Regions from separate parts of the Homo sapiens genome. Here regions 2 and 3 are each linked to region 1. Evidence: fine-mapped expression QTL. A gene starts in region 1. Each other region holds a variant in brackets. All regions are shown on one strand. Distances are from middle to middle. Region 1 holds the start of SDK2 (sidekick cell adhesion molecule 2). Region 2 overlaps SDK2 (sidekick cell adhesion molecule 2). Region 3 overlaps SDK2 (sidekick cell adhesion molecule 2).

Region 1 (8,175 bases):
ATCAAGCTTCCAAGCACATGGGAAATCTCTCGAGACTCTAGTTAAAAGACTTCCAGGCTCACCCAGACCTTTCCAATCAGTGTCTGGGAGCGGAGCCCAAGAATCTGCATTGCTACAACTCCCTGGGAGCTAAGTGCTTGAGGGCCACTCTTTGAGACACAGTGATGTGGCCATGGAAGGAATTTAAAGAAACCTCCTGGGTAAGGAAAAAGAATTCAAGGTCTTATTGGTGGGTGGCAGGGTACCATTCTTCATGGACTTCTAGCTTAATGTTAAAACCGTCATAACAAGAATAATAATTGCCATGTATTAAGTACCTTCTATGTGCCAGGCACTGGCTGGGGCCCTGCCCCTGGAATATCTTGAATTCTCCTAGCAATTCTACAAGGCAAGAGCTATTATTGCCAGTGTACAGATGAGGAAACTGAGGCTCTTAGTGGCTAAGAGCCTTGCAGAAGGCCTCTCTTCAGCGAAGCGGCAAAGCCAGATCATGAGAGCCCGTTCTTTCTGCTGCCAAAGCCAATGCTCTTTCTACAACCTCACTGCACTTTGCTTGGGAAATGAGTTTGCATCATGTGACCCATCGGGCATACGGCCAATGGTCAAATGTTAGCTTTCAGTATACCCAGGTGATGTCGCTCAGGTCCAGCACCCACCCCCCATCCCCAAAAAAAACCAACCAGGCTAGGCTCAGATAAAATCTGGTGACAGTGGTCGATGTGAAGTTTGTCTCAAGGGAGGAACAATTGTTTCGTCCCTCGTTCTGTGCCATGCCTGGAGAAGCAGGCTTGTGGGCTCAGAAATGACAGTGCTAGTGGCTTCAGCTACCCCCCAAAGGATTAATGTCATGGCCTGAGACTGGAAAAAACTCACTCTCTAACCCCAAAGCAGATAAGAAAGGACCTCATGCCCTAATCCCACCCCCTCCAACACTCAAACCCAGCACTGCCAAGCCTAGGACCACGTTCCCACAATCCTTTGCAAGGCTTGCCTCCAGGGACACACACAGCAGGAGAGGGCTCGATGCTGGAAAACACTCTCGGAGCCAGAGAACACGAGCGGAGCAGCAGGGGACCTGGGCAGCCTGACACGCAAAAAGCCAGCAAACAAGAAAGGCAGAGAGGAAGTGAATCAATCACAGAGACTTTCTCTGCTTCTGACAGGGAAGCCCCTCCCGCAGGAGGCGCAGGGACAGGGGGCCACCTGGCCTTAACTTCAGCAGGAGGGGTGGGATCTTGGCCTCAAGTGGATGGCACAGGTGTGGACGTGGGGCAGGAAGGGACACATGAAGACCCCAAAGCAAGGGCCATCAGGTGCCCTGGGGACTCTATAAGGGCCTGGTCCTAGATGAGACAAGAATTGGTGAGCCACCTGCCCAGGGAAATCATACCATTGTTGAAAAGTCTGTAGAGCAATGAAGTTAGAAGGGTCCAGACAGATGCTGGCATCCCGTCCCTCCACGCCGTCCAGGCTTTTGGCTAGTAACACTGGTTGTCCCAGAGCACAACTGTGAGGCTGCTCCAGGATGAAGGACAACCCATTCCTATTCTGCCAGCATCAGGGTCCTCCTGGGACCCCTCAGAGAGGGGGCCCAGACCAAGGAGACCCCATGCAGCTAGTCCTGGTTTGAGGGAGAGAGGCTCAGAACTCATCTGGTTCCAGACCTGCCTCTGCCCCCAGATCACAGAGTGGCCTTGGGCAAGTCATTTAATGCCATTTGGCCTCAGTTTCCCTATCTGTTAAATGGCTACTAGAATAAGATGACCTCTGAGGTCCTCGCTTGTTCAAAGATTTTATGATGATCATAAAAATAATAACTTTTATTACCCTACATTTATAGGGCTCGTTACAAAATTTCGAAGTGCTTTTATGTAAATTACCTCGTAAAATCCTCCCCTCAGCCCTGTGAGTGAGAGCTGATTATTTTCATCTCTTTGATCTTGGCTCTCTGGATTGCCTGGCGCACGAGGCGGCGTGGGGAGTGGGTTGCAGCCCCCACAGTCCGGACCCCTAGGGTGGGTCTGGCCCCCTCCTGAGCCTGCGAGAGTGAAGGCCTAGCCCTGCGAGTCCTGGAGCTCGGTCCAGGCTTCGTCTCCCTCCGCCCCCAGCAGGCGCCGCTCGGACACCGCTGACACCACTGTCTGGATCGGCGAACCCCAAAGTCGAGGAACCGCCGGTGCAGCCGCCCTTCACCTCGGGGACCTGCCCGGGGACCAGGGGGACGTCTGGGCATCCACCCTCAGGAAGCGGGCAGCGCAGATCACACCTCGGATCCTTCGTAGCACTCCCAAACCCAAAGCCACCAGCCCTTCTCCACCGCGAGGCTGCTCCCGGCAGCCACAGGTCACAGCAGCGAGCGGCTGCACAGACTATCGAGCGAACAGCGGAGGCTGGAGGCAGGGGCGGGGATGCTGGGTGTGGGTGGATGGGTAGGAGGGGAGGCCTCAGACCCTCCCTGTGCACCACCCCCCGGTGGGTCCGCGGCTGCACCCGCGACCTTGGCTCCAGGCCCGCGCAGCGAAGCACCCCCAGCCCCAGCGGCTGGCCGAGCAGCCAGGGGCGGGCTCCCGTACGTGGCCAAGCCGGGCAATTGCTCTCCCCGGGCGAGCAACCCGGCATCCAGCGCTCGCCCACCCCACTCCCTCGCCCCGGGGAGGCCATCGCCTGCCCGGCAGGGGCCCTGCCCTTCCCCGCAGACACCGAGCAGGGAACCAGGAGCTCGGTCTGGGAAGCTCAGCGTAGCCGAGCGTGGAGCCCGGCACGGAATGTCGCTCCCCTCCCAAGCCGGCGCAGGGCAGCCACAGCAGACGGGGGGAGGGGAGCGCCCCTCCCACTTCACCTTGGGCTCTTCTCTGCCTCCCCAGGTCGTCCCCACCTTCCCCCATTCGGAAGCCACAAGTCTCGGAGAGACTGCCCCACCCCCAAAAGAGCCCCAAAACTTGGGAGATGGGGTGTCTTGAAACTCCCTGGAGAGGGCTCTGCCACGGCTAAGCCGGGTGTCCAGGAGGTCACCGTGAGGCCGGCCAGCTCCCGCCGCCCCTCCCCCGCCCACTCTCCCAGCCCCCTCCCTGTCCCCACGTGGGGGTCCCTCCTTACCTTGGGCTCTGGCCGCGCGGATCTGATGCAGAGCTAGCAGTGTCCAGATCAAAAGCCCCCACATGGTGACCAGCCTGGAGAGGGGTCCTCGGGGTCTCCCTTCCCTCCGCCCTGTTTTATAATCCTGGTGGGGTCCGATACCCCGTGGCTTAGTCCCAGGAAACAGTCAGTCTACGCGGCTCCGTGCCCCGGGGTGTAATATGCCCGGGAGGGGCAGCGCTTGGCTACCCCAACCCTTCCTCCTCTTCTGTACTAGTCCGAGCCCGGCAGCGCGCCCGGAAGGCGAGGGGCGAGCAGGGAGAAAGAGGCCAGGCCGCCCTCTCGGACTAGGGCGCCTCTCTCCCTTAGCACCCCAACTCCGACTTCTCCCAAACAGGGCGGCCTCTGCGATCCGGCCGGGTCGCCGGCCGAGCTCCGGAATAAATGGACAACTTCAGGAAACTTCCTCCCGTGGCCACGTTGCCCGCCCCCTCCCCGCCCCCTGGTTGGGTTCTCCCGGCCGACGCAGTCACCGCCGTTCCAGGCGCCGGGCCCCCGGGACCCGGCCAGAGCCGAGCGCAGTGGCAGACGCGGGTGCGGGGGTTCTTTTAGGGGCGCCGGTTTCGGGGGACGCGGTGAGCATAGCGGTCCGAATCTCCCTGGAGCTGAAGTTTTCTTCTCTCTAACTTTGCAGGCAGCATCTGGCGGGGCCGAACCACCCCCTCTGGGCTCCACCGCCCTCGCGCCGAATCGGGAGACGCCGGGTCTCCTCCGGGGGCGCTGGGGCCGGGCGCGCCCTCGGCTCCGCGCCCAGCCGGCTAGCAAACTTTGCGGGTCCCGGAGCCGGGCGCGCAGCCCTGAGCGCCCATGTCCGCGCCAGCCGCGGGGCGGCGGGGGAGGGTGCTGGGCTTCGCGACGCGGGCTGTCGCCGGCGCCCGGGCGCAGAGCCTCCTGCCGGCCCGAGGATGGAGACCGGCGGCTCTGCCCTCCGCCGCGCCCCGGCCGGAGCTCTCGGGAAGACGCACGGAGAGCCCGGCGGGCAGCCCCGGCTCCGGGGACGCGGCGCCCCTTCGGACGCCCGGCGATCGCCGACCTCCCGGGCCGGAGGAGCAACGGCCGCCCCAGCGCCTCGGCCGCCGCTGCCGCTCGCCGAGCCCGCCGCCCTCCGCTTCCCGGGCTCGGCGTCCAGAGAGCCGCTCCTGCCTGCGCCGAGCCGGAGCTGCGGGGGCAGCGTGAGCCGGGGACGAGCGCGGCGGAGGCGGAGACGCGGAGAGGGGGGCCGAGCGCTACCCCGTGGCCGCGACTGGAGAGCAGCCTGCGCGCCGGGAGGGGCGGCGGCGGCGGCGGCGGCCCCGAGCCAGGCCCGGGAGCGAGCCCCGCAGAAATACAATCCGACTGCGCGGCCGCGGGCGCCCAGCGGCTCTGGGACCCGCAGGGGGGCAGCAGTGCCAACCTTCTGCCGCGCCGGGAGAGATGCGCGCGAGCCCCTCCGCTCTCTGCCCAGCCTTTCCTTCCAGCCTCGCTCGCGCCCCTGTCTCAAAGGCCTCATAGGACTCCCAGAGTCTCCTATAGTCGGGAGCCCCCAGCCCCCTTCCGGACATGGAGTGATTGGTGGGGAGGCGGCGGTTGGGAAAAGGGGGTCGGTCAACCGATTGATTCCAGTTTCCCCTTCCCAAGTCAGGCTCTCCAAGGTCTGGAAATGCTCAGGGCGGAGGGGGAGACATCGGGAGGCCTGGGACCTGCAGAAGCCTGAGAAAGTGAAGTTGGTGCCAAGGAGCGTGCGTTCTTTGTTTCTTCTTTTTTCCTTCGGAGCCCAGCTTGTAAAGAGTAGAAGAACCGGACATTGGTGGAGGAATTCAAACAAGAGAGCCCGGAGGCGTCCTCTGCTGTGGCCCAGAGCTAGCGCCTACTCCACGAAGCTCAGCTGGGGTTAACAGGCTTCTGTTAAAATTTCCCGGGCACTGGGAAAATTTCAGGTGCCTTCGCCTCGGTGGACTCCTTTCCCTGCTAACAAAATTATTAAAAATAAGATTTTGCAACTGCGTTGGCATAAGGAAAAGTATATTAATATTGCATATTAAAACATGTTCTTCAGCCTAAAGCTTTACTTATTTTTTTCTGATTTTAAAAGAAATCAAAACATTTTCATGGGCCCCAAAAGACTATGGTCCCTGGCACTGGGCCTGCGGTGCTTAATGCAGAAGTCTACCCTGCGTGTCTGATATTTCTTCTGGGAAATAAAGAGCTAGTGAGACCCTCCATCTTTTGCCACAGTGCTTCTCTCTACTCTCTCTCGTGGTCCTACTTAGTCTGGTCCCCCACGGCTGCCTAGTCTTTCTGGTCCTTGAAGTCTAGGACTGTCACTCACTGATTGCCAACTCTTTCCCAGGCGCACTCCCACCCCAAGGACACCCCTTGTGATTGCTGTGGAATAGGCATAGCCACCGCAAATATATCGTTACTTATATATTCTCCTTTCACCTGCTTTGGAAGAAGAACCGTAAGCATTTATTAAAAATGTCTGAGAAGCTGGCCTGCCTTGCCTACAGCGTTTCAATCACCTAATTCAAACAACATTTCCCCCTGGCAACCTGCTCCATCCCCAGCTGAAGCCCCTCTGGCTGGCTGATTTGTAAATGCGAGGGCTTTGGGGGCAGGCAGCCTAGATGTGACCAACTCTCCTTCTCCTTGGTGGCCATGTCACTCCCACCTGCTTAATGATGCCCAGATGTGACAGTGCACACCCCCTACATACTCTGAATGTCCCCAGCTGTGAGCTCAGGCCCTTCCCAGACTGTCAGGAAGAGCTCTGGTCTTTAGGGTGCTGTTACTCTGTTCGCTCACAGAGGGGGCCTGAGAGCCGTATTTGCGGGGAACCTCTCCTTCTGTCTCTTAGGCCAGATAGCAGAAAGGGCTGCATCTCCGTTTACATCACAGAGGGTAGGAGTTCGCGTGGACATAAAAGTCTGAAACCTGGGTGGATTCCACCCTGATCGTGCCCAATTCCCAGAAGTCCAGCAGGCAGGAATGTGAGCTCCACGTGCCTAGGGCCTCGAATAGCATCGTTCCCTTATTAAGAGGAGGCCTCTTGCACAACCGTTTGGAGCCCTACAAACCTTCTTCTGGGAGTTTCATCCCTAACACGTGAGACGGGGACCCATCAGGGACTGGTGTGAGGAAGGAGGTTTCCTTTTCTTTGTTGGAAGTCTCCAGGCATGCCTGCCAGTTAGAGAGGAAAGGACACCACTCCTGCAGCTCCTACAGCAGATTTCGGTCTCCATCCATCTAGGATGAAGAAGAAGATTTGAGCTCTTTTTGGCCTCAACCCATACACATACACACACAGGAAGGAACTCTCTGATTTTGCCTCTTGCCAGAGTTTTGCTGGCCCAGGAGAAGGCTGAGCTGGGAGTCTGCCACTTTGAGAGGGGCTCGTTACTGGGAAAGTCACTTGCAGACACCATGAGCTCATTCTTGCCACCAGCGGTATAATTAGAGGTTGCATCGGTACAGTTACAGTGGGCGCCACGTCAGGAGGGCTGCGAGGATTTCCCAGGCTCACTCTGTTTCCTTGTTGCAAGCCTGCCCCTTCCTGTTGGAGCCCGCACGGACAGCTCTCCCGGAACACTCGGGACGGAACCTGGGTCTTCCTCATCTATATCCCATTTCCCTCATGCCCGGGGTCTGCACCTTGTTGAAGACCCTCCTCTCCATACCTTTGGCTCTTTTAGTTCGGGGTGGGGGGCGGCGGAAGCAGAGAGCATCACAACACATTTCCAAAGAGAAGGAAAAGCCTAGATCATTCTGCTCTGTCTCCTTCTCCCTTCCAAGTGGATGTGATTTTCAAATGTTACCCTTCTAGGAAAATGCTCACTGAACCCCAGATAGGGCCCTTTTCCTAGCCTTCCATCCCACACATAGTCAACGAAAGGGCAGCCCTGCAGAATCTTGTGAGGGAGGCTTCAGAGTGGGAGGAGAATTACCCCATGCCCCAGCCAAGGAGCACGAAGGCGAAACCCAGGACAGTCAGATGAGCTGCTCAGCCACAGAAGGCCCAGATCCTCCTTAGCCTGCCGTCCCTCTACATCACACTCCATTTCCCACACAGAACCCAAAGGCTGGGCAGGGACAGAATCAGCTTTTCAATATGGTTATTGTGTCTCTTTTTTTCTATTTTCAATCTCAAATGTAACAGCAGCTAGAACAGAGTGTGCAATTGCAGAGTAAGACTGTATCCTCTGGCAGCCCCGGATCTGTGTCGGGGACTGGCAGGGACCAGCCAGGAGGCAGTGACGGTGATACCAGGGAGGCAGCGGCACGTGCTTTTGCTCCCTCCTCACGCCTTGTACCCACTCCCTGTACCCACTCCCTCATCCCAAGTTCTCTGCTTCCCAAGTTGCTGGGGGCTGCCCTTAGCCAAGAAATGCACTCTGGTGGCGATTTTGCCTGGGAAAAGAAGGTGGAAGGAGTGAGCGCAAGGGTTGGACACAACTCAGTTTAGAAGAAAAATGAGTGAGGCCAGAAGAGGAGGCAGAGTGGAGGTGGCCTTTAAACTATGGGTCTACAGAACAAAATCACTCATTCGTGCTTCCCAACTACGCCGTTCCCAGCATCTCATTCCTCAGAGTGAGGCTGTTCTCAGGGTTGCTGTAGGTGGGGCTGGGCCAGGGCCCCCCAGAGTAGAGACTTTCAGCAAAGCCATCTATACTACCTGCAGGGAACTGAGACACCTCACTGCCTTGAAACAAGGGCTTCCAGTAAATACCTCATGGCATTCATTTTTCCTTTTTGTTCTGTGTTGAAGGTGGAGAAAGGGAAGTAGTGGAAGAGGTAGAAGTGGTTTATTAATCTCAATCGGAGAGAGAGAAGCCCTGAGTCCCTGTCTCAGCTCCAGCTGACATAACAAAATACCATAGACTGGGCAGTGTAAGCAACATGCATTTTGGTTTGTTTGTCAACTTTTTGTTTTTATTCTGGAAAACATTTTCAGCATGCATACTAGTAGAGTGTCTAGCATAGAATTCTGCTGTTCAGTATGATAACCACCAGCCATGTGTGAGACAGAGCACTTCAGACTGGGTTACTGACACACATTGAAAT
Region 2 (8,139 bases), 50 kb before region 1:
TCTTAACTGTTTCTATATGTAAGGCATTTCTCCTGTCCAGACAGCTGCCACTGGACCCTCCCCTGGATGTAAGCCCCTAATAAAACCCTATGTCTCCTTTGCTGGCGCCGGGTCTCTTCTTCAGCTTCTCGAACCTGGTGCCTTCCCTATTGAGGTTAACAGGGTTTCAGCACAACACCTGCCCTGAGCTCTCTGCTCCCCCGGCCACCAGCACACTCTTCCGGGACGCCACAGTGGGGTTGCCAGATTTAGCAAAAACACAAACACAGGATGTTCGGTTACACTTGAACTTCCCTTCAGACCCAAGGCTGTTAGAGTTGGGGTTTGCAACAGTGCAAACCTGTAGGACGTGTAGAATACTCTCGCAAATTGGGGAATGCTGGTGCTCAAAGATGAAGCAATGTTTATCTGAGGTCCAAATTTACTTGGGTATCCTGTCTCTTATCTGGCACCCTATCTACTTGGAGATGCAGGTTTACAAGAACTAGGACATGGCATGGCGAAAGGTATGAGAGGACACAAGGAGACCTGGTCCCCATCCAGCACCCCCTACTCATGCAGGCACATGACTGAGCTTTGCGGAGATGCTTATCTGTGGGGTGGGGCAATACCAGAGGGCAGCCATCACGCGGCTGTCAGGAAGCCTCCTCATCTTCAAAGAGCATCAAGCACTAAAACGGTAAGAGTGGCCAGGTCTGGAGTGCAGCGGAGACTCGAGGAGAGATAAAAGGCTGCCAAGAGCACACCCAGCCTCTCTGGGGACGTGGGGTACGTGCTATGAATGCACCTTGCAGTTTCTCACCCACATGAGGGGGGAGTTGATCTCTGCGGTCCCCTTCAGCTTAAAAACCTCATGCTGATCCCAGGCTTCCGGACTTCATCTGTCAATAACGATGAATGCAGGGAACTGCAGCCTGTCTACCAGTAGCCCTTGCACCACAGAAAAAGGAAGGTAAATCCACAACTGGAAGAAAGCATCATGGGCTGCAGGCCACAGCCATGCCTCCGTGGGCCTGGCACTGTACACTTCTTGGAAAGATCTAGGCCTCTCGGCCCCCATCATGCCGAAATTAGAGGCTGGCTCCGTGTGGCTGCATTGCACCTGCCAGCAGGGTTACACCTGTATGATCAGAAATGTGTAAGAGCAGATTTTACTGGACTAATAAAAATTAAAATGACCAAAATGGAGTCAGAACCCAGCCAAAGAGGGAGTGTGGGAGGGAAAGAGTCTCCAGCTTTTTATTTTTTAAGCAGGCCAACCACATGGAGGTGGGGACGACTTCTTCCCCATGCCCCCGGCAGCACCTCCAGCCATCTGTCCCCACCACCTCCTGGCCTGGTTAGCTGGCTTCCAGAAATGTGACTGTCTGGAGTCTAACCGGGGCACACCAGGAGCTGTCACCCTGAGTCAAGCCTGGGGCATGAAGACAGGAAGAGAGGGCCGGGGAAGCGCGAGGACAGGGACCTTGGTGGCTGGCTGAGGATGCTCAGATGACGGGAAGACGGAACAGTCAGGCACACCCTGGCGGCTCCCCATTTCCGGAAGGAGGACAGGAACGGAGGTCCAGGGAGAGCCTATTGTAACCACCGTGCGTGACACCAAGAGCTTTGGGGAATCTACGGAATCAAAGAGTCACAGACACATGGCCTGGCCACATGCCCGTCTCCCAAGCATATTTCAGGGTTTAACCTCAGCTCACCCCGGTAATGCTGTGTTTGCAGCGCATGGGGGTGTCCGTAGCTCGCCGGTGTCACAGGATCACCCCAGAGTGGTGTGGGACGTACACTTGGAGTTCAGCCGGTCCAGCCAGCTCATTCCCCATTCGAGGCCCAGGGAGGGTTGGGTGGGGGGGATTGTTTCTAAGCTTACCGCGCAAATGCCGTCCCTCCTCCTCCTCCCCACCCCAGCTCCTGCTGCAGGTCTTCCCTCGACAGGCTGGGTACCCCACCCCACCCTCTGCCTACGTCTGTGCCACTGGGGGGCTGTGTTCAGTGTGGATGTGGGGCTCTGTGGTCCTTCTGTCATCCCTGGATCCAGAGTTACTCCTGGGGGCCCAGACACCTCTGTAATTCAAGTTGCTGGGCTACTGTGAGGCCCAAAACGTTTGTGGGGAGCAGAGAATGAAGGAGCCTCAGCACCCACTCCCTATCCTGGCCACAAGAGCATCCTTCCTCCTCATTGTGCAGGAAACCCCCACCCAAAGGAACAGAGATGGGGTGTGGGGGGCTTCCCCCAGAGACCATGAGGCATGCGCTCTGGGCCCTGGGGTAACCTGGACAACATTTGCCTCTAAGGGACCAGGAGTGGCCCAGGACAATAGACCCAGAGGCAGAACACCTAGCTTGGAAGGGCCAGAGCCCCCCAGGGAAGGAGCAGATGGTACCTCAAGCTGAACCCCTTCTCTGCAGTGCCCCCCCAAAGTGTGCCACTCACATGTTTACTGATCAGATTTGGGGTTTCTGACATGCAGTAATCGGATCACGGAAGGTGTTAACTGGATTAGGCAGAAGGCTTCCAGGAGACACCAGCTGAAAGTGGCTATTAAATAACACAGGGGCCTGGGCGGCAGGGCTGAGGGGACCCTGCTTCCTCAGCCCTCTTCTTCTTTTGTCCCTGGCTCCTCACTTACCCTCCTTGGCCATATCTCACTGTCCGTCCTTCTTTGAGCACTGGCCATGTGGCCGAGTCTGTGTTGGACAATTTGGTTGCATTATCTCCTTTAATCCCCACAGGGAATTTACAAGGTAGGTTTCAACCTCCCCATGTAACAGAAGGGAAAACAGAGGCTTGGAGGTTAAGAAAATGGCCCCACAACCCACAGCAATAAATATGTCTGGAATTCCAATCCAGCTTTATCTAATATCGTTTCCAACTCAAAAACTGTTTCCCCAAACCTGGTCATGTCAGGCCTCCCAACGTCTGGGAGCCAGCAGGTGGTTCACTCTGGCCAGCCTCTGAGGCTGAGTGTTGGACAGCGGGAAGGCGGCATTGATGGGGATTCGTGGGCTGTAGGGGAAGGTCAGCCACTGGACAGCTCCCTCGACCCTTGACCCCCTCAGGCTGGGGTGCTGGCCTTCCCCCGGGCAGCAGCTGAGGGCCTGAGTCTCATGTCCTCAGACTGCTCCAGATCAGATGGTCTCAAGCCCTTCTCCTGAGTATAAAGATGCCCTTCCCTCCCCCAGTGCTGCTCCCTAAGACCCTAGAGGCAAGAACTTGGTTGCTCCCCTGGAAAGTGTTGGTGGTGGGGATGAGGAGATGGGAAGAGAGGGAGGGGGAGAGAGAGAGAGAGAATATATTAGATATCACAGAAGCAAGCTGGAGTCCCAGCAATGTGCTTGCTCCTGCAAGACTCCCTGCCTGCCTCATGATGGGACAATGAACACACACACACACAACACATACAAATACACACAGAACACACAGAAATACACCCATAGCACACATATGCACACATACATGTAATACATAGCACACATATGCACACAAATACATGCACAAATACAAATACATGCAGCACAGATGCACACAAATACACTTAGCACATATGCACACACACAAATATACAGCACATATCCACACACAAATACACACAGCACACAGACACACATACAAATGCACACATAGCACACACATGCACACATGCAAATACACACAGCACATACATAGCACACACCTGCACATATACAAATACACACAGCACACACCTGCACACAGCACACGTGCACACACACATACAACAGGCCTCACTACCTGCCTGCTTCACTCCCCCAGCCCTTGTCACCCTCTGCTCTGTGGATCACCTCCTCAATCAGAACGCCATCACCACGAGAAAAGACTTCGGCCTGTTTCTGTTGTTTCTACCTCTGTACCCACAGCTCCTAGCACGGTGCCTGAAATAAGTGGGCATTGGGTGGGCACTTGCTGAATAAGTGAAGCCATGAGCCACAGAAGGGGTGTCAGTGAGAATTCGAGTGTGGGTGAAGGTGAGGAGGAGGAGGAGGAGGAGGGAGGAAAGGGAGGTCTGAGAGATGGGGAGAGGCAGGCCTGGGGGAGAGCGTGGCCCTGTGTCGGAGAGACAGAGAAATAGAGTCGGGGTGGCCACAGGTAATGAATGCCGTTTGTGGTGAGACTCTCTTGCCCTATGGCTCCAGATTGAGGGGGTGTCCCAAGGATGTCTGGGCACAATATTGGTGTGTGCCAGGGCCTGGGAAGGAGGCCCTTGTGCTTCCAAGAGATCCCACACAGCACCAGCCTCCCACACAGCCATGAGTCTGGGCCCTGGAGGGGACCCAGCCTCGGGTCATCAGAGGAAACGCTGTCTCCTCCTCGCTTGGACTGGCCAGTGGCACAGGCTCCCTCCTAGGGAGGTATGGAGTCACCAGAAAGGCAGCCTGGGGCCCAGGCCAGGCCCAGATGGCCCCAGCTGTTCACCACAGCCCCAGGGCAGGCAGGAAGCTGGGGTGCGGGGAGTAGCCGCTGACCCACTGGGAACCAGCATGCAGTTTGGAGGGGGG[C/T]CTGGTGGGGGCAGTGTCAGTTCAAGGCTGGCATCCACTCCTCACCGGCAGGCCCTGGCAAGGGCCTATCCTCCCTAGAAGGCTTGGAGGCAGCCAGGGGGGCTGAGAGGGGCCAGGGGAGCTGGGAGGACAGGCTCCATCCTGTGGGGCTCCCTGCTGCCTAGAAGCAGCCATCAAGCAGCCCGAGAGTGTGGCAGACATGGCTTAGGCGGCCTGATGGAGAAGCCCTTGACACATAGGATTGCAGAAGTCAGAGGTCTTGGCCTTAGGGGGATACAGTGAGGCCTCGGCACTCCCAGTCTTATGTCCCAGGCAGACGGCCCTCACCTACCCCCTGTGCCTGCCCCAACACGTTTGGGCTGTCCTGGGCAGGGATGCACACACAGGGAGTCCCAGCTGCAGGTGGTGGTAGCCTGGAGACCTGGGTCCTGGGCAGCTTTGGGACAGAGCCACTGGGCAATCTGGGGCGGCAGGGGTAGTGGAGAGGGACCCGCAGGGTGAGTGGGGAGGCAGTGGCGACCTCTATGAGAGAAGGCAGCCTGGCATATGGGGCAGTGATCAGGGCAAGGTGTCAACACACCTGGGTCCCCACTCCAACTGGGGACCTGGAGGAAGCCTCCTCCCCTCCCTGGAGAGGGGCATGACACGGTATGAACATTGGCCGGAGCTCCAGTCAACCTCTGCGACCCTCAGTTTCCTCATCTGCATAATGGGTTTGTGTGAATGTACGAAAACTCCTATCAGTGCATTTTACTTCTCAATATATTTCTGCATATACATATTCTGCATTCTCTCTGGCCTCCCTGTCCCAGCGTCCCAGCCTCTGAAAGGGGGCGCTGGCTCATGATGTATCTGTTTCCCGCAGTGACATGTCCCCGGAACCCACAGCCAACCCCCTTCCCAGTGGTCTCTGATGTTCCCCCCACCCCCAGAAGGGAGATGAGGAGGAGCAGAAACAGGGGACACAGGACAGGGTGGCTGGTTCCAGCCTCCCCGACCCTCCCAGCTCCACTCTGATCTTGTGGCCTCTCCAGCTCTCATCCTCCCTCCATGGCCTCCAGATGACAAGTCCCTGGGGATAGCTCCCTGCCATGGCTGGCGGTGTCTGAGCAAAAGAGGGAGATGAAGCTGGCTTGGAATGGGAGGTGCTAACCTTGTCTTCGGAGTTGCCCGCTTGCTCCCTCCACCCCTAGTCCAGGATGCGCAGGCAGAACCCCGGCCATTTCCATTCTGGGGACTCTGGTCGGGAGTCCGGCGCCCTAGGAATCGTCTCCTCACTTCAGTCTGAACCTGCTCCATGCCCAGGGACCGGGCCAGTGCACCTGGACTCACCTCATCTGAATCATCCCTGTGGGAGTGCCTGTCAAGAGCCAAGATGTTCCCAAGCTCATCTGTCTTTCTCTTGTCCTTTAACACGTATTCTCCTGATGGGTTTTGGATATTTTCATTCTCCTTCACCTCACCGGGGCCTTGAAGGGTGGAGACTCTCCCTGGTGCTGGCTACCCAGCACCCCACTACTGACACAAGACGGGGAGCTGCCCTGGGTGGAAGATGAGAGGATGCAATCAGATTTCTGGAAGCTGGGCACAAGAAACCTGTGACCAAGTCTCAGCCCTGCCAGGTATGACCCTCTGACCATAGGCAAATTATTTAACTTCTGTGATCTCAGTTCTATAAAGCAGGGGCCTCTCCTGTGATACTTTGCTTATAGAACTCTGCGATGTGGACGTATCTGTCTGGAATAGTTCCTGGGCTCGTGGGAGACACACAATCAACAGAACTATGGACATTACCGTCCTGTCTCTCAGGGCTCATGGAACGACAGGCTTCTGCCGATCCTGCCCCCAGCCCACCGCTATCCTTATAAATATGTATTCATAGGAGTTTTCACTGTGTGCTTCTGGACTATTTTCTTTTCTTTTTTTTTTTTTTGAGACAGAGTCTCGCTCTGTCGCCCAGGCTGGAGTGCAGTGGCACGATCTCAGCTCACTGCAAGCTCCGCCTCCCGGGTTCACGCCATTCTCCTGCCTCAGCCTCCCAAGTAGCTGAGACTACAGGCACCCGCCACCACGCCCGGGTAATTTTTTGTATTTTTAGTAGAGATGGGGTTTCACTGTGTCAGCCAGGATGGTTTCGATCTCCTGACCTCGTGATCCGCCCACCTCAGCCTCCCAAAGTGCTGGGATTACAGGCCTGAGCCACCGCGCCTGGCCTATTTCATTTTTATGATACCCCTACAAGGTGAAATATTCCCTTTCTACTTCTACAGATGGGAAGAGTGACGCTCAGAGGGTTTGGGTCACTATTCTGAGGTTACATAGCCAGCTGGTGTCCGAGTTGTTCTCAGGTGCCCCAAACCTAGAACTTTTCCATCCCATCTCCCCAGGGGGAGGGTGCTAGGATCCCGTGCCCCAACCCCAGTTAACAGCCACCCTCCCACCATTCACCACTGCCATGACTTTGGAGCCATCTAAGCATATACAGGTGACAGGAGTAGGCCGGACCCACAGGCAGTTTGCTGGGTTTGGGAGACTCGGTGTGGGGCGTGAGTTCCTAGACGCTAACCCCCTGTCCTCCTGGCTCAGGTCGCTGGGTCATTGGCCGACGGCACCTGTGCGGGCTCATGCAGGGCAGCTCAGATGGCACAGGCCTCCCTGACAGCCAGCTGGCCGAGGCAGCCCCATGCATCAGCCAGTTTTGTTTATTCTCCAGCCTTGTTTATGACTCGATAAAATCCATAACACGGACAGTGCCTGTCTCCCCTGGCTTCCCCTCTGCCCGGCTCTCGTTCCCTGGGGATGCAGCTCTGCTCTTTATAGAAACCACCTGCTAAACTAGGCCCACCTGAAACCCATCACTGTCAGTAAATGACCCTCCAGGAGAGGAAGCTGCCCAGTAAGTGTGAGGCAGCGGGCACGACGTGGATCGCTGGCCTTTTTCTTTACAGAGGTTAAAAATAGTCCCACCGGGAGCAGCCCATCCCCCTCCAGGGACCACCCCTAGCTGTATACCTATGTCCCCTCCAGCAGGGGAAGGTGGGAGAGGCACTGGACAGGTGCTGAGAAGACGTGGTCTGGCCAGGGCCTGGCACCTGTGAGCTCGAAGGCCTCGTGTAAGTCACAGCACCTCTCCTGCTTTCCGTTTCCATTTACACAATAAAATGAATGGATCAGGCACCAAGCGCCGGCTTGCTTCGATTTTTCTTCAAGTAGTGGAACCCTTTCTTTAAGTAAAATTTTAGACAGATCCCCAATAGATGAGAGTGCTGAAGAAAACGGACTTTTCCGGGTAAGGAGCGAGTGGAAAATGTAGCATCCCCCTAGAAAGAGTTACCCCTTTTCTTGTTTTTCCAACTGAAGTCTCCGAGCTTCCAGAAGGCTGAGGCTGGATATTTTTCATTGTTGTGTCCTGTGCAATGGGCCTGGCCCACTGATGTGTCTCTTGTAGTGCTTAGTACATTCGTACAGAAGGAGGAAGGTAGGTAGGTAGGAGGGAGTGAGAAAAGAAAGGAGAGAAGGTGCTGGGCACGGTGGCTCACGCCTGTAATCCCAGCACTTTGGGAGGCCGAAGGGGGTGGATCACTTGAGGTCAGGAGTTCAAGACCAGCCTGGCCAACATGGCGA
Region 3 (8,175 bases), 88 kb before region 1:
TGCCAATGGACCCCGCTGTAGGCTGCTTCCCAGACGAAGTTCCCTAAGCGACTTCATCTTTGAACCAACTCATTTGCACTTCTCGCTCTGGCTTCGTTTACACTGCACTCTAAGCCCTCTCCTTGGCAAGTTCTCAACTCGAGAGCCCTTGCCCTGAGCCTCTGGCTGGCGCTCAGAGATGGGATGAACTGTTTGGAGAGGAGCCGTAGAGGAGAGGCTCAGACCCGTTTGGGTTCTGGGTTCCTCGAGCACCCTAATCCCAACCCTTTGGGATTGGCTGCAGCTCCCAGGTAGGGCAGACGGCTGCAGCGTCACGCTGCTTCTCTGGATGGATGAATGCAAAGGCAGAGGCTTCTGTGGGGGCTGGGAGGGAAGGGCCAGAGGGAGCTCTTGGCCCCACTCTGGGCATGGAGGTGGCCTTGAGCATGGAAGCACCTTCTGGGGTGTGTGTGTGTTCTGAATACCATCAGAGGCAAGAGGCAGAGATGGGGCAGGACAGGCCACGGGGGGCCAGTGGTGGGAGCCCAAGGCTGCCTCCAGTAGGGAAATTGATATTGATAGACCATTCTCACTGTCAAGGGCTTTGAGCCAGGACTTACTGCCTATTTAATACCAGGGTCTCCATAGTGACCCTGGAAGGTGGATGTTATTATCCCCTTGGTAAAGATGACAAAACTGAGGCCTCAAGAGATCAAACAAGTCCTGCCCAAAGTCACTGGGCCAGTGAGCAGCCCAGTGGTGAGTCACCCCCAAGCCCTGCCGGCTGCACCTATTCCTATGATGGTGTTTCCTGCAGGGAGCTGCCCTCTCAGAAGCCAGGATAGCACAAGGAAGGACAGGGGGGGACAGAGAGGTTTGAGGCCCAGGGTCACCCCTGAGCCACTACCTGGCCACAGCCTCCATCCCACCTGCAATCTCCTTCCTCGGGCCTACACCTCCTGCAGGTGAATAGCACCACCCCCAAACCCCCACCCTTGTTACAGCATAGCCTTCACCCAGGGATGCCAGTCACCCCCTTCCTGAGGAGGTGCTGGCAGAGGGGGCATGACCAGCTCCAGCCTGAGCCTCAGATTCCCTTCAGGCTTTTTGGGCATAAGATTGGATGCAGGAGTGGTGGTTTCCCTACTCCCTCCCTAGGTATAAATCTGGCCTGCAGAAGACCTCTTCAAGGGGAGATACCTAGCAGCCCCAACACATCCCCCTGAAGCCCTGGCTTCTTCCCATTGAGGAGAGGACAGGAGCATGGAGGGAGGGTTACTAGGGGAGCTGGGGCCCTGAGGCTCACAGGGAGAGGGGTTTTATGTCCTCCAGGGGGAGCTGGGACCACCTATTCCTAACCCTGGAGCAGATCCCTTGTCCTCATCAACCCATGGTCTCTGCCCCCTTTCAGGTCTTCTACTTCTTCCAGGAGGCCCCCTGATGAGGACAGGGGGCAAGTCATCCTCCCCTTTGGAAGCCCAGTGCTTTGCGCAATGCCAGGCACACAGGGGCAGCTCATCAATCCATTATGTAAAGGCACCTAGATGAAGCAGAACCACTTCCACACTGTTATGAGCCAAACTTCCTGCCCCCAAAATTCATCTGTTGAAGTCCTAAGCCACGGTACCTCAGAATGCAACTAAATTTGGAGATAGGATCTTTACAGAGGTAACTAAGGTTAAATGAAGCCATTGGGGTGGGCCCTAATCCCATGTGGCTGAAGTCCTTATAAGCAGAGGAGGTGAGGGCACAGGCTCATATGGAGGAAGAACATGTGAAGACACAGGGAGAAGATGGCCATCTACATGCCAAGGACAGAGCCTTCCCTCATGGCCCACAGAAGAAAACAACCCCCATAACACCTTGGTCTTGGACTTCTGGTCTCTAGAATTGTGAGAAAATGAATTTCCATCATTTCAGCCAGCTAGTCTGGTATTTGTTACAGCAACTGTAGGAAACTAATACACACTTCTGTGCAAATCTCTTTCCTTCCCTGGAATGCATCCTCCTCTATCTCTGCAAGTGTGAGCTCTGTATGTCAAGTCCTGGCTCAAAGTCCACCTTCTCCAGGAAGCCAGCTGTGCTGTGGAGCTCTTGGGCATCCTTTGTAGAGTATTGATTTACACTTATTTATGGGTTGTTCTGTAAATGTTACAAACCCATATTTGGGTTTTATTACAGGATCAAAACTCTGTGAGTTTCCTCCTGCCAAGACCTGAGTCTCTTCCATCTTCAGGAGCCCTCGAGGTGCTCTGAGCTCAGGCAGGGCCTTGGTGCCCAGACTGGCTGGGGACCAGGCTGGGAGGAAGGAGGATGGGGGAGCTTTGTTCTGGGTTGGCCCTCTGACAGCGCCAATCCCCATCTCCAGCCCTGGTGAACCCTAGAGCTTGCATTGTCTAGCTGCATATGCAGCCCCGAGCTGGGCTATGGGCACTTGGTCTTGCCCTGGGAGGCTATGAATTGAGCAGAGGAGAGGATGGTAACCAGAGAGAGCAGGAGTAACAGGAGTGCTGTCTATACAGATGAGCCAGCGAGGGCCTCATGGAGGGCTTGAGTCTGGAACTGGCCTTGAAGGCTGGCAGGACTTGGACTGGTTGAGGGCAGGGGGAGCTCATCTCCAGTGGGGAGAACAGCTCATGCAAAGGTGTGGCATGTGAATGGGAGTATTCCTGGCCTGGGGGAGGCGCCATTGGGAGCGGTGCACTGGACCTTGGACTCCGCGCAGCTCATCCTCGTCTCTATGTACTGAGGATGCTGAGGCCCAGGAAAGGAAGGGGCTGGCCCAAGGTTGCTCACTGTGGTCAGGCCTCTCTGCCCCTGGGCCTCAGAGGGGACTTGGAGGTCACTATTCCAGTCCCTGCCATCAGGCAAGAATGGTGGATTAGCCTGAATCCCCTATCATCTCCCTCTCTGCCTCAATGTCCCGGAGCTCAACTGGGAAGATGAGGAAGGGCCCAGGTGGGGGTAGAGGAAGTGAGGGGCTGCCAGGCGCCAAGACCACATAAGCAGCAGATGTCGGCGGATTAGCAGCTCTGCTTCCCAAAGCTGCCGGAGCCACTTAATATTCTGCAGAGGGGATCACTTCTCTTTCATAAAAAGCAAACACGGGACTGAAATGCTGCAGACTCCAAACACCTGGGGAGGTTTGGCGGCTTGAAACCTTGCTCCTGGGAAAGACACAGAGAGTCAGGGGGGACCAGGGAGTCAGCCCTCCTTGCTGGCCAGAAGCAGTGGATGGTCCCTGCAGGGAGACAGGCAGTGGATGCACAGATGGGCTTGAGCTTCTGGGGTTTCCAGGGAAAGGCAGGGGCTTTGGGAGACATGGGGGCACTGTCCATGGGGCTTGGGCTTGGGGTGGACAGTTGGCAAAGTGATGGCACTCAGTGGAAGTCACTGCCAGGAAACGACACATGCAGGGACCATTCCTCTCCCTCTTAATGACCCCAGACATCGGGAATGGAGGCACAGCCACTGAGGCAGATCACCAAGATGGGAAGCGGCAGGTTCTTTCCAAACAAACAGATCAACAGAGCAAAACAGCTAACAGCTTTAGTTAAATACAAATAATTCCAAGAAGCCAGCGGCAAGCTTTTACCTTCGGAGTTTGGGTTTTTTTTATTGTTGTTGTT[G/GTTT]TTTAATAAAGGAAGACGACTTTCTTTGATTAGACAGAGCTCACTTTATCCAGATGGGAAAGAAATACAATGGCTCTCTCTTGGCTTCCTCCGAAGAGCCAGGTATGTCTGGGCAGCCCATCTGGGCGATGCTCACTGGACATGAGGCTGTGTATGGTCAGATGTTTATGTACCGTGACTCATTTTTGGTAGAGGCATTCACGTTTGACCTGCACATGATTCTTCTTTTAAGCACACATTTTAGGAAAAATATTTGCTGAATTCTTATGCGGCTGTTGGCATTGCTGTTATTGTATGGTTGTTACCATTTGTTCCCCTTTGGGAACCTGTTTCCGGTTTTGAAAGGACTTCAGTAGATGTTAATAACTCAGCTTGCCTGGGTGGAAGTCTAACCTGGCAGCTGTCAGCACAAATTCTGGAGCCAGACCACCTGGGTTCACATCTGAGCTCTGCCCTGTATTGCTTTTGAGGGGATTTTCTAAGCCTCAGTTTTCTCTTCTGTAAAATGGGGGTGATGATGATCATAGAAACTCTCTCACAGGGGCTTTGTGAGGATTGTGTGAGTTAAACACACAAGGAAATTAGCACCAGATTGACAGTATGGGGCTATGATTACTGAGATTGGAAACAAACCTTAGCAAATTTCATTCTTCTAAGCTAGGCAAAGGCCACGCAGCAGCTAGAAAGTGCAGACACTGGGGTTGGCCTTATGTGGGTTTGAATTCTCCAGAATATTCTGGCTGTATAAAACCGAGCAAATCAATTTCTCTGGGCTTTGGCCTCCTTATCTATACAATGGGAATAATGAGAACTCATTCCTCATAAGAAGTAAGTTTCAACTGAAGCTCATGGAATGACACAGTTCATAGCGCACGCTCAACAAATGGTGGCTGCCCCAGTGAACAAGCTCGACCTTGCCAAGGCTTACCTCAAAGGCTTTGCAGGAGCTGCTGTACCTCGAGATTTTTTTTTTTTTTTGAGACAGGGTCTTGCCTGTCGCCCAGGCTGGAGTGCAGTGGCACGATCTCGGCTCACTGCAACCTCCACCTCCTGGGTTCAAGCAATTCTCCTGCCTCAGCCTCCTGAGTAGCTGGGATTACAGGTGTGTACCACCACATCTGGCTAAGTTTTGTATTTTTATTAGAGATGGAGTTTCACCATGTTGGCCAGGCTGGTCTTGAACATCTGCCCTCAAGTGGTCTGCCTACCTCAGCTTCCCAAAGTGCTAGGATTACAGGCATGAGCCACTGTGCCCAGCCAGATAAAATATTATAATGTTTCCTTTCTTCTTCCCATCCTCCTCCTCCTCCTCTCTCTCTCTTTCTCTCTTACTTTCTTTCCCTGCCTCCTAATCTCCCTCTTTTCTTTCCTTCCTTGTTTTTGGGTTGGAGGTCCTCTTTCAATAGAGGGTAGAGAGAACCCAAAGTGTCAAAGCCCTGCCATTCTAATTTCCTTTCCCATTAACAGGAGTTCCTTAAACTCTGTGAGTCCAGATTTCCTGCCCTCAGTAAGGTCTGCCTGCAGCCTCTACCAGGTAGTGATACGATGGGCACCTCTGGACTCAGCAGTAGAAATGGCAGCCAGTGGCATTGACCTGGATTCACTCATCCTCTCTCTCAGCCTCTCCCCAGGGCTCCCTGGACAACCAAGTCCAGCTCTCTTGTTCTAGGACCCTCCTCACCCTGTTGCTCTATCCCCCTTTGTCCTGCCCCATCCCCAACACCATGGGCTGGGTGCCCTGGGGGCACTTAGCAGCCCGAGCTGCCACCTGGGAGTGAAGCGCCTTCTGCTGAGGCAGGAGGGGTGCAGGTCTGCTGTAAAGGGGCAGCCCCAAAGTTCTGCCAGTAGATTGATGGGGAGTAAAGACTCTGACCCCACAGCCTCACTGAGCACATGTCAGAGGGGCTGGCAAATCTGAAAAGATGTGGCTGTGACTAGCTCTGCCTAGGGTTCTGCCAGATTTCCTGTGGAACCTTCCAGAATTTCTCCATTAATGACAACGACCATGCCCAGGTAGAGATGGAAAGAGACTCGGATGCCTTATTCTGAAATTAACTTCAGTTAGGAAGGAAGGGAAGGAGGGAGGGAGGAAGGGAGGGAGGGGAGAGGGAGGAAGAAAGGAAGGAAGGGAGGAAGGGAGGGAGGAACAGAATAATATTCAAGCACTTTTTCATGGCACTTTAAAATGTTCAAGCACTTTTGCATTGACTGTATCTCCTTTTATCATCCAGCCTGTGAAGTTCACAGCTCAGCATTATTAGGCAGTGGACTATGGAGGACCCACACACAGCCAGGTTCAAATCCAGCTTCATTAGACAGATGAAGAAACCAAGGCCCAATGAGATGGAGTGCCTTTCCCACCTCACATGGGAAGTCAGTGCCCAAGTTAACAGAACTTCAGGGCCCCCGCACCAAGCCATGTGTCTCTCCTACAAGATCCTGGAGGATGGGCTCTCAAATGGGGTCTCAACCCTCCCCCTAGATAGGAGCTCTTTGCCTGGCTTCTGGAACTGTGGGCCACCAGTCCCTACAGAATGAGAGGTACTCTCACTCACTGCAGTAGCGGCCTGGAGAGAAAACGCCTGCCTCCCTGGCTCTGTCTGCAGCCTGGCTCCCAGGACGTGGCCTCATTTCAAAGACTAAAAAGGTAGCTGAGAAACAAACGAAAGTTAGCTGAGATGGGAAAACCACCCATGGGAAGGAAAGAATGCACCATCTCCTCCCCTTTTCTCTCTTCTCTATGGGGAGAAAGAAAAACCTAAATACTGATTTCAACTGGACTCTCCTGCCTGCACCGGGGCCCCACAAGCAACACCCAGATCCTGAAAGTATTTGTTCCAGTCAATGGGGCAGAGTGACCCACGAAGGACAGAGCATGCCTGCCGAGTTCACACACTTCCTGCCTGCCTCTGGGAAAACTATTTAACCTCTCTGAGCCTTGGGTTTCCTCGCTGGTAAAGTAGAGATGGTGGCGATACATGTGCCATGGAGTGGCAATGAGGATGAAATGGGACAATGTACGCAAGACTGTTGGCAAGAAGCAAGGAGTTGATAAATGGAATAGACGATATAACAATTACATTGTAATGTGTATTATAATTCTTTTTGCGGGCTCTTGAGAATGAGAACTCTCTGCCAACGTGGAGAATGAGAGGGGCAGATGGGAAGAACACTGAGATAAGAGCAGTAAGTCTTGAGCAGGATGGTGTGGGGGCAAGCTCTGTCCATCCGCCACTCCCCACTCCGCTCCCTGTGCCCCCCGCCCCCGCCACCATACCACACATGTCACCATACTGTGGCTGCTCTCCAGCCTCCGAAGGGCCACCCCACAGGCAGGTCTGCAGCCTGAACAGGATGGGACAGGTAAGGTTGGCCCCTCCCCCTTTCTTTTCTTCCCTACCTCCCTGTCCTGCTAGAGACAAGTGCCCCTAATGCCTGTGCTCCCGAATCATAATGCCACAAAAACCTTGCTGAGATAGGATGAGAGAAAGAGAGGGTCTGAGACAACTCAAAGCCTTTAGTCCCTGGCCTGATCCCCCCAGGGCTGGGCACCAGCTGGTTGTCTTGGCCTCACTAAGCATTTCCTCTGTATCTTTAGCTTGCTGGGCTCAGTGGCAGTCACCCCTGGGAGGGATGGCATGAAGGGCTGGGGGTTCCTCTGGGCCATCACACCACGGGAAGCGGGTCTATGGCCCCAAGGGTCCTGCCTTGGCCCTACTGAGACCAGGCAGTGAACTATGGAGGACCCGCACACAGAGCCAGGTTCAAATCCAGCTAAGGGCAAACTGCCTAAGCTCTTACAGCCTCAGTTTCCTCACTAAAAGGATGCAGTCACTCCTAGTGCCACCACCAAAAACCACAATAAATGACAGACAAGGTGTTGTTAGAAAGACTGAATAACCAGAAATGTTCATGGAAATGACAGCTGGGCTGCAGGGCTGGAGCTGGGCTGGAGGCTGCTCTGCACCCGACCGTGCCTCGCATTAACCCTTTATTGTTTTTGTTTGTTTGTTTTTGAGACGGAGCCTTGCTCTGTCGCCCAGGCTGGAGTGTAGTGGTGCATCTTGGCTTACTGCAACCTCCACCTCCCAGATTCAAGCAATTCTCTGTCTCAGCCTCCTGAGTAGCTGGGACTACAGGCGTGCGCCACCATGCGCGTCTAATTTTTGTATTTTTAGTAGAGACGGTGTTTCACCATGTTGGCCAGGCTGGTCTCGAACTCCTGACCTCAAGTGATCCGCCTGCCTCGGCCTCCCAAAGTGCTGGGATTACAGGCATGAGCCACCTCGCCTGGCCTCATTAACCCTTCAGGTGTGGAACATGGAACATTTCAGAGATGTCAGGACAGCAGCTGTTTACCAGCTGTGTAAATACAGAACTTCAAAATCCAAGCACCCGCATGTTGGTGGGGAGTCCTGGGGACCACACACCCTGCTTACAGGGCTACTGTGAGGGTTGGTCAGATCATGGAGCCACTGGTGCCCACCCCCTCCCGATCCTGATTCAGGAGCACACAGGCTCCTCGACCAGTGGGTGGCGTCTGGGCCAGCAAGGACTTGTGGCAGGA

Evidence for each region.
Region 2: its variant is fine-mapped to the expression of SDK2 in whole blood (TOPMed, PIP above 0.99). The same link has a PIP of 0.9 or more in lung.
Region 3: its variant is fine-mapped to the expression of SDK2 in whole blood (INTERVAL, PIP above 0.99).

Annotation. Positions count from the first base shown.
Region 1 is chr17:73,640,929-73,649,103 of GRCh38, forward strand. It overlaps SDK2 (sidekick cell adhesion molecule 2), which reads right to left and starts at 3,517. Exons shown (of 45, transcript NM_001144952.2): 1 at 3,097-3,517. The coding sequence starts at 3,160. It overlaps LOC124904054 (a long non-coding RNA gene), which reads left to right and starts at 4,546. Exons shown (of 2, transcript XR_007065893.1): 1 at 4,546-4,766; 2 at 4,893-5,176.
Region 2 is chr17:73,591,216-73,599,354 of GRCh38, forward strand. All of the region lies in intron 1 of SDK2 (sidekick cell adhesion molecule 2), which reads right to left. Among named protein-coding and RNA genes, the nearest start is that of SDK2, 49 kb to the right of the region's middle. RefSeq lists an enhancer at 3,935-4,480. The variant C/T (reference allele first, on the strand shown) is at 4,516.
Region 3 is chr17:73,552,736-73,560,910 of GRCh38, forward strand. All of the region lies in intron 1 of SDK2 (sidekick cell adhesion molecule 2), which reads right to left. Among named protein-coding and RNA genes, the nearest start is that of SDK2-AS1, 43 kb to the left of the region's middle. RefSeq lists enhancers at 7,531-8,136, 8,137-8,175. The variant G/GTTT (reference allele first, on the strand shown) is at 3,609.